Linked DNA regions of Homo sapiens: region 2 is linked to region 1. Evidence: fine-mapped expression QTL. A gene starts in region 1. The other region holds a variant in brackets. All regions are shown on one strand. Distances are between the middles of the regions. Region 1 holds the start of UNC45A (unc-45 myosin chaperone A). Region 2 overlaps CRTC3 (CREB regulated transcription coactivator 3).

The links. PIP is the estimated chance that this variant, and not a neighbour inherited with it, causes the effect. A credible set is the group of variants that fine-mapping cannot tell apart.
Region 2: its variant is the best candidate, but not a certain one, in a credible set for the expression of UNC45A in esophagus muscle (GTEx, PIP 0.81).

Annotation. Positions count from the first base shown.
Region 1 is chr15:90,932,237-90,937,615 of GRCh38, forward strand. It overlaps UNC45A (unc-45 myosin chaperone A), which reads left to right and starts at 3,049. Exons shown (of 20, transcript NM_018671.5): 1 at 3,049-3,139; 2 at 3,308-3,469; 3 at 3,710-3,746; 4 at 4,049-4,224. The coding sequence starts at 3,089. It overlaps HDDC3 (HD domain containing 3), which reads right to left and starts at 313. Exons shown (of 4, transcript NM_001286451.2): 1 at 193-313. The coding sequence starts at 304. RefSeq lists enhancers at 461-510, 2,135-2,234 and a silencer at 2,865-3,264.
Region 2 is chr15:90,544,288-90,549,666 of GRCh38, forward strand. All of the region lies in intron 2 of CRTC3 (CREB regulated transcription coactivator 3), which reads left to right. Among named protein-coding and RNA genes, the nearest start is that of CRTC3, 17 kb to the left of the region's middle. The variant T/C (reference allele first, on the strand shown) is at 2,825.

The sequences.
Region 1 (5,379 bases):
CTTACCCTCTGGGAGCCAACCGACAAAGGGAACGATCATGCCTACCGTTCCAATTGTTATGAGGCTTAAACGGTATATCGCACTAAGCTTGGGACAAAACAGGTGCTCAATGAGGTGCACGCCCCCCACGTTTCCTTCCCAGTCCCCACCACCCAGGTGCCGCAGCCGGCGCTCCGCGGCCGACGCGCCCACCGATGGGGTGGTTGATGTAGGGGGTCCCCTCGGGGTCCTTCCGCCGCTGCTGCCGGTGCTTGCGAGCCGCGAAGTCGGCAGCCTCCAGCAGCTGCGCCGCCTCAGAGCCCATCGCGCGGATGGGGCCGACGACTGCGGCCGCAGGGGCAGGGACGGAACGTTTACAGCGCCCCCTGGCGCCGGGGAGGCCCGGGGATCGTGGAGGCTAATTCAGCGGGCCGAGTTGGGCCTGCCCCAGATGAATTCCTCTGGAGCTGACCGGCCCGCGCAGAGAGCAAGTGATGTGGACAGCTGCCTTCAGCATCGCAGCCCCCAGCTCAGTGTGCTCTGTTGGGGGTGCAAGAAGAACATAAGCCTGGCTCTTTGGGAGCCCACAGTCTGTGGAAAAGAGGAAGACAGACAAGAAATAAGGCAGTGGCCTCACAGTGCTCTGAATCCAGGGTGGCCAAGGCTCAGGGGACTATGGGAGCGGGAAGAAAGAACAATCCCCACACCCTCAGAGTCAGAGACAGCTTCTCCCAGAAGCTCCCCCCAAGAACCATCTTCAACCTGTAAAAGCTCTGAAAATTCTCCAAGTGTTCTAAAAATAGTTCTCCCTGTAGGGATGGGCCAGGTTCTGTGGGCAGGGGAGTCTACCTTTGGACCCTCCAGGAGACCCTAGGGCCTGACCTGAAAAATCAGAGCCTTCCCTGGGAGCCCTGCCTAATTGCTTCAGACTTAGGCTCCCAGGTAGCTGTGACGTTTCTGCAGGAACTGCCTTTGTTTGTCCTCAGTGTTGCAGATGAAATTTGCCTTGTCTTCTTATGCTATGAGAGCTCCTATTTCAGTCTCTAGGCATCTTCTGTGGGCCCCTGGGGTGATGAGTGTTGTCACTGCTGTCCTGGGAGCATGATGTTGTCAGGCCTGGGTAGGCACTGGAATAACACTTAATTCTGCTGGCTGGTGGCCTTCTGGAGAAATTCCCTGCCTTAGGGGCAGCTGAGGGGTAAGAGAGACCTGGTGATCCCCATAGAACTTCTCTGTGAGAGGGGGTTCCCTATTAGCTAAGTATACTCTAATCAGACATGTAGCTTTTGTGTTCTGGCTGGTAGCTGGGGCAGATAAGGCTCAGGGGAAAGGCTAATGAAAGGAGTCACCCTTGGTTTTCAGCTAGTCTTGGTGGTTGCCACGTAGCAGAGGTTAGGGAGGGAAGCCCCACATGCTGGAACTGAGGTCTCTGGGACCTGAAATAGGAGGGTCAGAATTCCCAGAGCTTCCATGGCAGCCTGGAAGTTGGAGAATGGGTAGAAACATATTTGGCTGTAAATGCTTGTTTGTTCTTCATACTAATGGCTCAGCTGCTCTCTCATCCCTCATTCTGTCCTCTAGTCCTTTGAGCCTTCTCTCCTTCAGCAGTTTGGCAATGCAGGCCCCACGTTTTCCAACAGGAGACAGAAACCCAGTCCCTGTCATCTCTCTCTAAAAGCCTGTGATAGAGAAGCTTCAGGCTCGTATTAATGGTGCCCAAGGGCCTTGGGGCTTTGACTTTTATTTCCTTATTGTCTGCAGTCACGGCCTAGAAAGAGAGATGTTGGGGTTCCCAGGACCAGGACAGAGGTGGTAGTGAACTCTCATGGGCATCCAGAGAAGGTCAGGCCCCTTGCTGACAGGCCTATCTGTGGGGCTACTGCTGCTCTTCAGCTGGGTGACCCTTGTCCAGCCAACCTCTCTCTCAGGTACAGCACTTACCCCTGTGGCCCACCTGCCTCTGGTGCTATGGGCTATTCCTGGGAACTGGAACTGATGGGGATGGGTGGAAGGGCATCTTTTCTTCTGGTAGGGGCTGATCTCTTTTACTCTCCAGTAGGGGTGGAGTGAGCTGTGGAAAGGCCCCTCCTGCTTGTCTCTAGCACCCCCACCTCTCTCTTCAGCTCTGGTCCACCACCCTCACTTGTGCCAGACCACCCGGGATGTCCATGGCCGTCACTACCCTGGTTTCTTTTGCCCTCGTCTGTCTGATTCTCCAGAGGAAGCCTACTGCTGCCACCTGCAGGCTGCAGGGGGCTCCTGCTGCACCCGGGCTGAATTTGAGGCCCTGTACCAAGTCAATCTGTCCGCTCTTCCGCCCCCGCCCATCCTCAGGTGAGATCTCCAACCCCAGAGCCACTGGAACATCGACAGGGTGTTCCAGTATCTGGGGCTCTGTTCCTAAATTATGGGGTGGTAGGCTTGTAACTTACAGACTAGTGAAGGGACAGACCGCAACAGAAAATCATGTAGATCATGATTACAATTACAAAGGAGAAGTTCAGGGGGCTGTGCAAGCTGGTAATGGGGAGCCATCCTGAATCTGCCCATGGGTGGCTCTAGGATGAGCTCCTAAATTCGTATGCAAATGTGTGTATGTAAGACGACACTTATTTGGGGAGGGAGTCCTGAGCTTTCTCCGGACTCCCAGGGATTCTGTACCCCCCACAGAGCGCAGCAGCGAGAGCGCGGTCGGGGCCGGGATCCAGATACTTTTTCTCTCCCGCAGGGGCCCAGGCCCGCTCCTAGTGCTGGGCCTCTACAACCTACTGGTTGTGACCCTGATGACCGTAGACCTCGTGCACTTCTGCTGCGGTCGGGGCCGGAGTCTGGGCTGGAGCCACCGCAGGCCTCCCTCTGGGTCCTCCGCCGCGAGCTCCCTGCAGGTCTCTGCGGGGACAGCTTAGGTGCGCCCGGAGCTTGCCTGCACCTGCGATCCAGAGCCAAGCGCCCCGCCCCTGCCCGGGCGCGCTCCCTCCTTAGCCCTGCCCCTCTCTGACCCCACCTCCGACGCAAGAGTGGGGCGGGGCAGCTGCCGGTGGCGTCCCGAACCCAGACTCGCCCCGCCCCAGAGACTGCGCCTGCGCGGGCACGAGACAACCTCTCCGCGATGACTGTGAGTGGTCCAGGGACCCCCGAGCCCCGGCCGGCCACCCCCGGGGTGCGTACCCAACCCCCGCGCCATCACCCCTTCGCACCCGCCCTGACCATCCCTGGCCTCCTTCTCCCCATCCATGAGGCTCGCCCCGATCCCTCCTCTCCTCTCCCCTTAGCTCCCGGGCTCTGCCCCGAACCCCCTCCGACGTTTCCGCCCCCTTTCTCTCTACAGGCCAGCTCAGTGGAGCAGCTGCGGAAGGAGGGCAATGAGCTGTTCAAATGTGGAGACTACGGGGGCGCCCTGGCGGCCTACACTCAGGCCCTGGGTCTGGACGCGACGCCCCAGGACCAGGCCGTTCTGCACCGGAACCGGGCCGCCTGCCACCTCAAGCTGGTGAGGGAGCCTGGCGCTCTTCCCCTCGCCCGCCCGGGCCCCGGTTCGCCCATCTAAGCTGATGCTTGGGCCCCAGCTGGACATTCACGCTCCCAGGCCATCCCCGCTTGCCAGATGTTTTTTGCACCTCAGGGTGGTGGGGGATCGGGTGACCTTGGAGAGCGAGAGTACCCCTGCTGCCTGGTTAGTGCCCCGAGAGGGAGATGACCATTCCTTCAGGCTCCTGTCTTTCTCTTACAGGAAGATTACGACAAAGCAGAAACAGAGGCATCCAAAGGTAGGGGAATGGTGGGCCCTGGTGTGGAGCTGTAGGGCTTCTGTGGTGGGCAAGGACTCTGGGACCGCTGCACCGTCACATTCTCCTCCTTTGGCCCCAGAGACACATCTGCCTTCTTTCTTTCCCACTGCCTCGGGCCTTTCCTTTTCTGCAGCTACCCTCACCTTTTCTGAGGCTGAAGCACCGAGCCCCACATTCGTCCCCCCCACCTTCTTCTGGCCTTTCCTCGAGATCTTTCCCTACTGCTCTTGCCTGGAGACAGTGGCCTCATGGGTGCTGACAGCGCTCCTGTTTGTGCTCAGCCATTGAAAAGGATGGTGGGGATGTCAAAGCACTCTACCGGCGGAGCCAAGCCCTAGAGAAGCTGGGCCGCCTGGACCAGGCTGTCCTTGACCTGCAGAGATGTGTGAGCTTGGAGCCCAAGAACAAAGTTTTCCAGGAGGCCTTGCGGAACATCGGGGGCCAGATTCAGGAGAAGGTATGTGAGTGACCCAGAGAGGTGGAAGCATTGACTGGTGGTGAAGGGGTCTGGGCCAGGGGTGTAGACACAGTTCTCCAGACGAGATCCCGGTGGCAAGTGAACCTTGCCTGTGGCCAGGGAAAAGCAAATTAAGATGACAGCACATTACTGTTGATTTGGAGGTCTGTCTGGCAGATATTTAAAAGTTTGTACACTTTTCGAGAAGGAGAGAGGCAGACACATCAGTGGTGAGGCTGGGGGCCAAGGGCTCTCTGATGACTGCTGGAGGGGTATAAATTGGTACAGCTCTTTTCGAGAGTACTTTAGCATATCTATTCAATTTCAAATGAGCGTATCTTGTGATCCCATATGTTTACTTCTTGCTGTTTCTCTCAGAGAAACCTTGTCCACGTGCACAAGTAGACATGTGTATGTTTATTTCAGCCTTTTTTGTAGTAAGAAAAACTTGGAACTTGCCTGAATGCCCAGCCATAGAGGAATGGCTGAATAAATGGGTAATGTCCTTACTACAGACTCTTATATAGTTACTGAGAATAGGTAGATACACACATATTGAAATGGGAAGCTCTGGGACACTTGTTGAATGAACAAAGCAAAATAGGCAGGGCATGGTGGTTCATGCCTGTAATCCCAGTGCTTTTGGAGGCCAAGATGGGATGATCACTGGAGGCCAGGAGTTTGAGACCAGCCTGGGCAACATAGTGAGACCCTGTTGCTACCAAAACCTAAAAAGTTAGCTGGGTGTGGTGGCACACCCTTGTAGTCCCAGCTACCTGTGAGGCTGAGGCAGGAGAGTCCTTTGAGCCCTGGATTTTGCAGTTACAGTGAGCTATGATCGTGCCACTGCACTCCAGCCTGGCTGACAGAGTGAGGCCCTGTCTCTTTCAAAAAAGAAAAGAAGAAGAAAAATATACAATAACACATATAGTATAATATCATTTATGTTAATGATCCCCTACATAGCAAAACAATGCTATATTTTTTCTGTGGGTACACTTGGGTATGTAAATACAAAGGAAAATAATTGTTTTTTTTTTTTTTGAGACGGAGTCTTGCTCTGTCGCCCACACTGGAGTGCAGTGGTGCGAACTTGGCTCACTGCAACCTCTGCCTCCCAGGTTCAAGTGAGTCTCCTGCCTCAGTCCCCCAGGT
Region 2 (5,379 bases), 390 kb before region 1:
CCTTTTTCTTATAAAGAACTAGTCATTGGATTTAGGGCCTACCCTAATTCAATATGATCTCACCTTTGCTTGATTACATCTGCAAAGATTCTGTTTTCAAATAAAGTCATATTCACAGGTTCTGGGGCTTAGGACTTGAAGATATCTCTTTTGGTGGCCATAATTTAACCCACTACATTGCATTGATCAGTAGTTCATTTCTTTTTATTGCTGAGTAGAATTCCATTCTATGGATGTAGATAATTTATGCATTCATCAGTTAGTTGATGGGCATTTGGGTTGTTTCCACCTTTTGGCAATTATGAATAAATATTCTATAAACATTCACATACAGTTTTTATGTAAGTAGCTAGTAGTGGAATTGCTAGATCATACAGTAAGTGTATATTAACTTTAGCTTTATAAGAAATCGCCAAGCTGTTCTCCAAAGTGGCTCTACTGTTTCACATTCTTACCAGCAGTGCATGAGAGTTCCAGCGACCCTGTATCTGCTCTAGCACTTGGTATTTCAGAGTTTCAAAAAAATGGTGGTTAAAAAACAGAACATAAAATTTACCATCTTAACCATTTTTTAAAGTAGTTTATTGGTATCTTCTAAAACCATTTTTAAATGTATAGTTCAGTGGTATTACATACATTCATATTGTGCAACCAATCTCCAGAATTTTTTCATCTGACAAAACTGAAATTCTATGCCCATTCAATAAGAATTCTCCATGTTCCCTTCCCACCAGCCTCTGGCAACTACTGTTTTTTCTGTCTCTATGACTTTGACTATTCTAAGTGCCTCATATGAGGGAAATCATATACTATTTGTCTTTTTTGTGACTGGCTTGTGCTTAGTATAATGTCTTCAGGGTTCACCCGTGTTATAGTCTGTGACATGATTTCCTTCCTTTTCAAGGCTGAGTAACATTTCATTGTATGTGGATGCCACATTTTGTTCCATTCATCCGCTAATGGATACTTGGGTTGCCGCCACCTCTTGGCTATTGTGAATAATGCTGCTATGAACATGGGTGTGCAAATATCTCTTCAAGGCTCTGCTTTCCATTCTTTTGGGTACATACTCAGAAGTAGGATTGCTGAATCATATGACAATTGTGGTTTTAATTTTTTTTTTTTTTTTTGAGACTGAATCTCGCTCTGTCGCCCAGGCTGGAGTGTAGTGGCGTGATCTCAGCTCACTGCTGCCTCCGCCTCCCAGGTTCAAGCAGTTCTACTGCCTGAGCCTCCTGAGTAGCTGGGTTTACAGGCGCGCCCCACCACACCTGGCTAATTTTTGTTTGTTTTTTTTTTTTACTTTTGAGATGGAGTCTCACTCTTTCGCCCAGGCTGGAGTGCAGTGGCACGATCTCGGCTCACTGCAACCTCCGCCTCCTGGGTTCAAGCAATTCTCCTGCCTCAGCCTCCCAAGTAGCTGGGACTACAGGCACCTGCCACCACGCCCGGGTAATTTTTTTTGTATTTTTAGTAGAGACGGGGTTTCACTGTGTTAGCCAGGATGGTCTCCATCTCCTGACTTTGTGATCCGCCCGCCTTGGCCTCCCAAAGTGCTGGGATTACAGGCGTGAGCCACTGCGCCTGGCCTTGTCTAGTTTTTAAATTGAGTTGTTAATTTTCTTAATCAGTTGTGAGAGTTGTTTATATATTCTGGATACCAGTTCTTTATCAGATATGTATTTTGCAAATATTTTCTCCCAGTCTGTGGCTTGTTTTTTCATTTTCTCAAGTCTCGAAGAGTAGAAGTTTTAAGTTTTGAAGTCTAGTTTATCAATTGTGTTATTTTATGATTTGTGCTTTTGTCTTATCTATTAATAAGAGTTCTTCATCTAACTCAAGTTCCCGAAGGTTTTTTTTCTATGTGTTTCTCTATTAGTTTTATAGCTCTGTCTTTTACACTTAAGTAAATTATGAGTTAATTTTTTTGTGTGGTACAGGGTTTGGGTTTGAGGCTCACTCATTTTGCATAGGGATGTTAAATTGTTCTAGAACCATTTGATGAAGACTTTCTTTTCCCTATTGAATGCCTTGGTACCTTTGTTGAAAATCAATTGACCATATACATGTGGGTCTATTTCCGGACTCTTCTGTGTCATTGGTTTCTTTGTCTATCATTTTGCTAATACCATCTTCTGTGTCATTGGTTTCTTTGTCTATCATTTTGCTAATACCACACTGTCTTGATTACTGTACCTTTATAGGAAGGCTTGGAATTAGGTAATGAGAGTCGTCTTTGTTCTTTTTTGAAGCTGTTTTGCTTATTTTCATTCCTTTGCTTTTCCATAACATTTTAGAATCAGCTTGTTAATGTCTATAAAAACACCTGCTAGGATTTTATTTTTATTTTTTTGAGACGGAGTCTCACTCTGTTGCCCAGGCTGGAGTGCAGTGGCACGATCTCCACTCACTGCAAGCTCTGCCCCCTGGGTTCATGCCATTCTCCTGCCTCAGCTTCCTGAGTAGCTGGGACTACAGGTGCCCGCCACCACGCCCAGCTAATTTTTCTGTATTTGTATTAGAGACGGGGTTTCACTGTGTTAGCCAGGATGGTCTCGATCTCCTGACCTCGTGATCCACCCGCCTCGGCCTCCCAGAGTGCTGGGATTACAGGCGTGAGCCACAACGCCCGGCCAACACCTGCTAGGATTTTAAACAGGATTGCATTGAATCTATAGATAGGTTGGGGATAATTGACATCTTTATAATATGGAGTCTTCCACGAAGAAGACTTCCATGTACAGAAAAACAGATTTTTATTGAAGTTCAGTTGCTTATAATCATTTATATACAATTCTCCTTTTATTTTTATTATATTGATATA[T/C]TTTTGATTGACAAAATTGTATATATTTATGGTATACGATACGATATTTTCATAAATGTATACCTTGTGGAATGGCTAAATCAGACAAACATATGCATCCTCTCACATCATTATCATTTCTTTTGTGGTGAGAATCTGCTCTCAGCAATTTGCAATATATGATACATTGTTATTAACTTTAGCAATCATGATGTACTATAGATATCTTGAACTTGTTCTTCCTGTCTACTCCTTTTATGTTTGTAAATCACTTTGGAGTTTACAAAATGCTTTCATATCTGTTATTTTACTTCATCCTCTTACTACAACATTGGTTGGTAAGTGTAGTACTATTTTAATATACTAAAGACCAATTTTCTATCCTAATGGAGGATCTCAAAGTGCATTCTTTTTTTCTAACCCAATGAGCCCTTATGCAAAGAACGTAGACTTATCAGATGAGTAAACAAAAGCCAACTTTTCAGGCTGCCTTCTGATAATCTTTAGCAAGGGGCAGACCATCAGTAAAGGGGTAGCTAGGGTTATAGCCCTCATGTCTCTAGGCAGGGCCTGGCACACATACACTGAGGGCAGAGAGGAGGAAGTGGGCATTATCTTCTTCTCTGAGAGCGAGGGCTAGGGCTGTCTCTTCTGCTTAGTGGAGGGATAGCATGTTCCAGCCTGTGTAACAGCTAGGGCACATGTTGACTGAATGGCTTGTCAGGCAGCTGTAGAGAGAGGGACAAAGGGCTTCTCTCTGTATAGGGCTTTGTAGGTATAGTTGTAGCTTTTCGTATCCTTTTTTTTTTTTTTTTTTTTGTGACAAGGTCTCAAGGTCACCCAGCTGGAGCGCAATGATGTGATCTTGGCTCACTGCAACCTCCACCTCCTGGGCTCAAGGGATCCTCCTGTCTCAGCCCCCCAGGGTAGCAGGGAGTACAGGCGTAAGCCACCACACCCGGCCAGTTTTTGTATTTTTGTAGAGATAGAGTTTCACTATGTTGCCCAGGCTGGTCTCGAACTCCTGAGCTCAAGCGATCCACCCGCCGTGGCCTCCCAAAGTGGTAGGATTACAGGTGTGAGCCACCACTCCCAGCCTCGTATCCTTTATATAACCTACCCTAGTCCTTTCAAATCATATCACTAAAAACTAATTGTACTTTTTACATCTCTGATTAACTACATTTTAACAAAATTGCATCATGTCATGTGTAACTGAGGGCTTTTAAGTTCTAATTTAGGGAACAATCTGATGGTCAAGGGAAGAAACCCTTATACCAAGGCAGTTTGCAAAGGCCTGGAGGGCCAGGTCCAGCAAGGTGGTTTTCCTGGGGCCCACTACCAATATGAGTAGTATAATGAGGCCCAGAGTTCGCATAGCAAGTAAGTAAGAGAACCAGGACTTAAAAATCATGTCTTTGACTTCCAGTTCCATTTCCATGGTTTTCCTTTACTGCATTTCCTTTCAAGTTTTCATAAGGTTCTTTAAAGGAAAAAAAAAGATTGGCAAAAAGATACATCAGTTAAACAAAAGAAAACCTAAGTAGCAGTATTAATCTCAAAATACCACTACTAACCACAGCTGACATTTATTGAGTATGTGCTATGTGCCAGACACTGTGTTAAGCTCTCTATGTAGATGGTAATTGTCATAGCATTATATGACTTTTATGTGATAAAACAACATAGCAACAAATTGCAAAAAGGAAAAACTCCAAGAAATGAGAATTCGACAATAGCACAATTCTAGATTTTTAATTCACTACGACTGAGCCAATATTCAAAATAAAGATAATAAAGAGTTACACCATTAACAAATCAGAATTACTGTATACCAAAATTTATTCCCTAGAGTTTATTCTCTAAAAAGGTAAGATACCTTTCTAGATATTTCTAGACTCATTTTAAAAGCAATACTTCTTTTTCTGATTATAAATGTAACACTTGCTTATTACAGAAAACTGGTTACATCTTTTTTCACCATTTGGCCTTTTCTTTCAGTAGTTTTGCAGTGACTATAAATATTTTTTAACAAAATCAGCCTCATATGTATGTATAGTTTTGTATTTTCCTTCTATGTGTTCAATGGTTTTCAGAAACAGTATTTCTAGTGACTACATGCTATTCTGTCACATGGATATGCCACAGTTTCACTGCCCCCTTATTGTTTGGGTTGTTTTCACTCTTTGTTCATGGTGTGTGTGTGTGTGTGTGTATGTGTGTGTGTGTAGTGTAAATTGATCACATACTGGGCCAAATAAATTCTCAGTAAATTAAAAAAGGAGAAATTGAATCTGAACATAATTAATAAAATTGCAATTAATAATTAAATTTAAATTTAAAAATCCAGCTATTTGAAAATTTTAAAGCCTTTTTAATAACTATTAGATATACTATCAGGCAGGCTGGGTACCATGGCTCACGCCTGTAATCCTAGCACTTTAGGAGGCCGAGGCGGGCAGATTGCTTGAGCCCAGGAGTTGGAGAAAGATAGTGAAGAGCTAGAAGAATGCCTTCACTTTGAAAATCTGAGGAATGCCTTGGATCCCTCCTGAGGAAAATATGTAAATATGTAT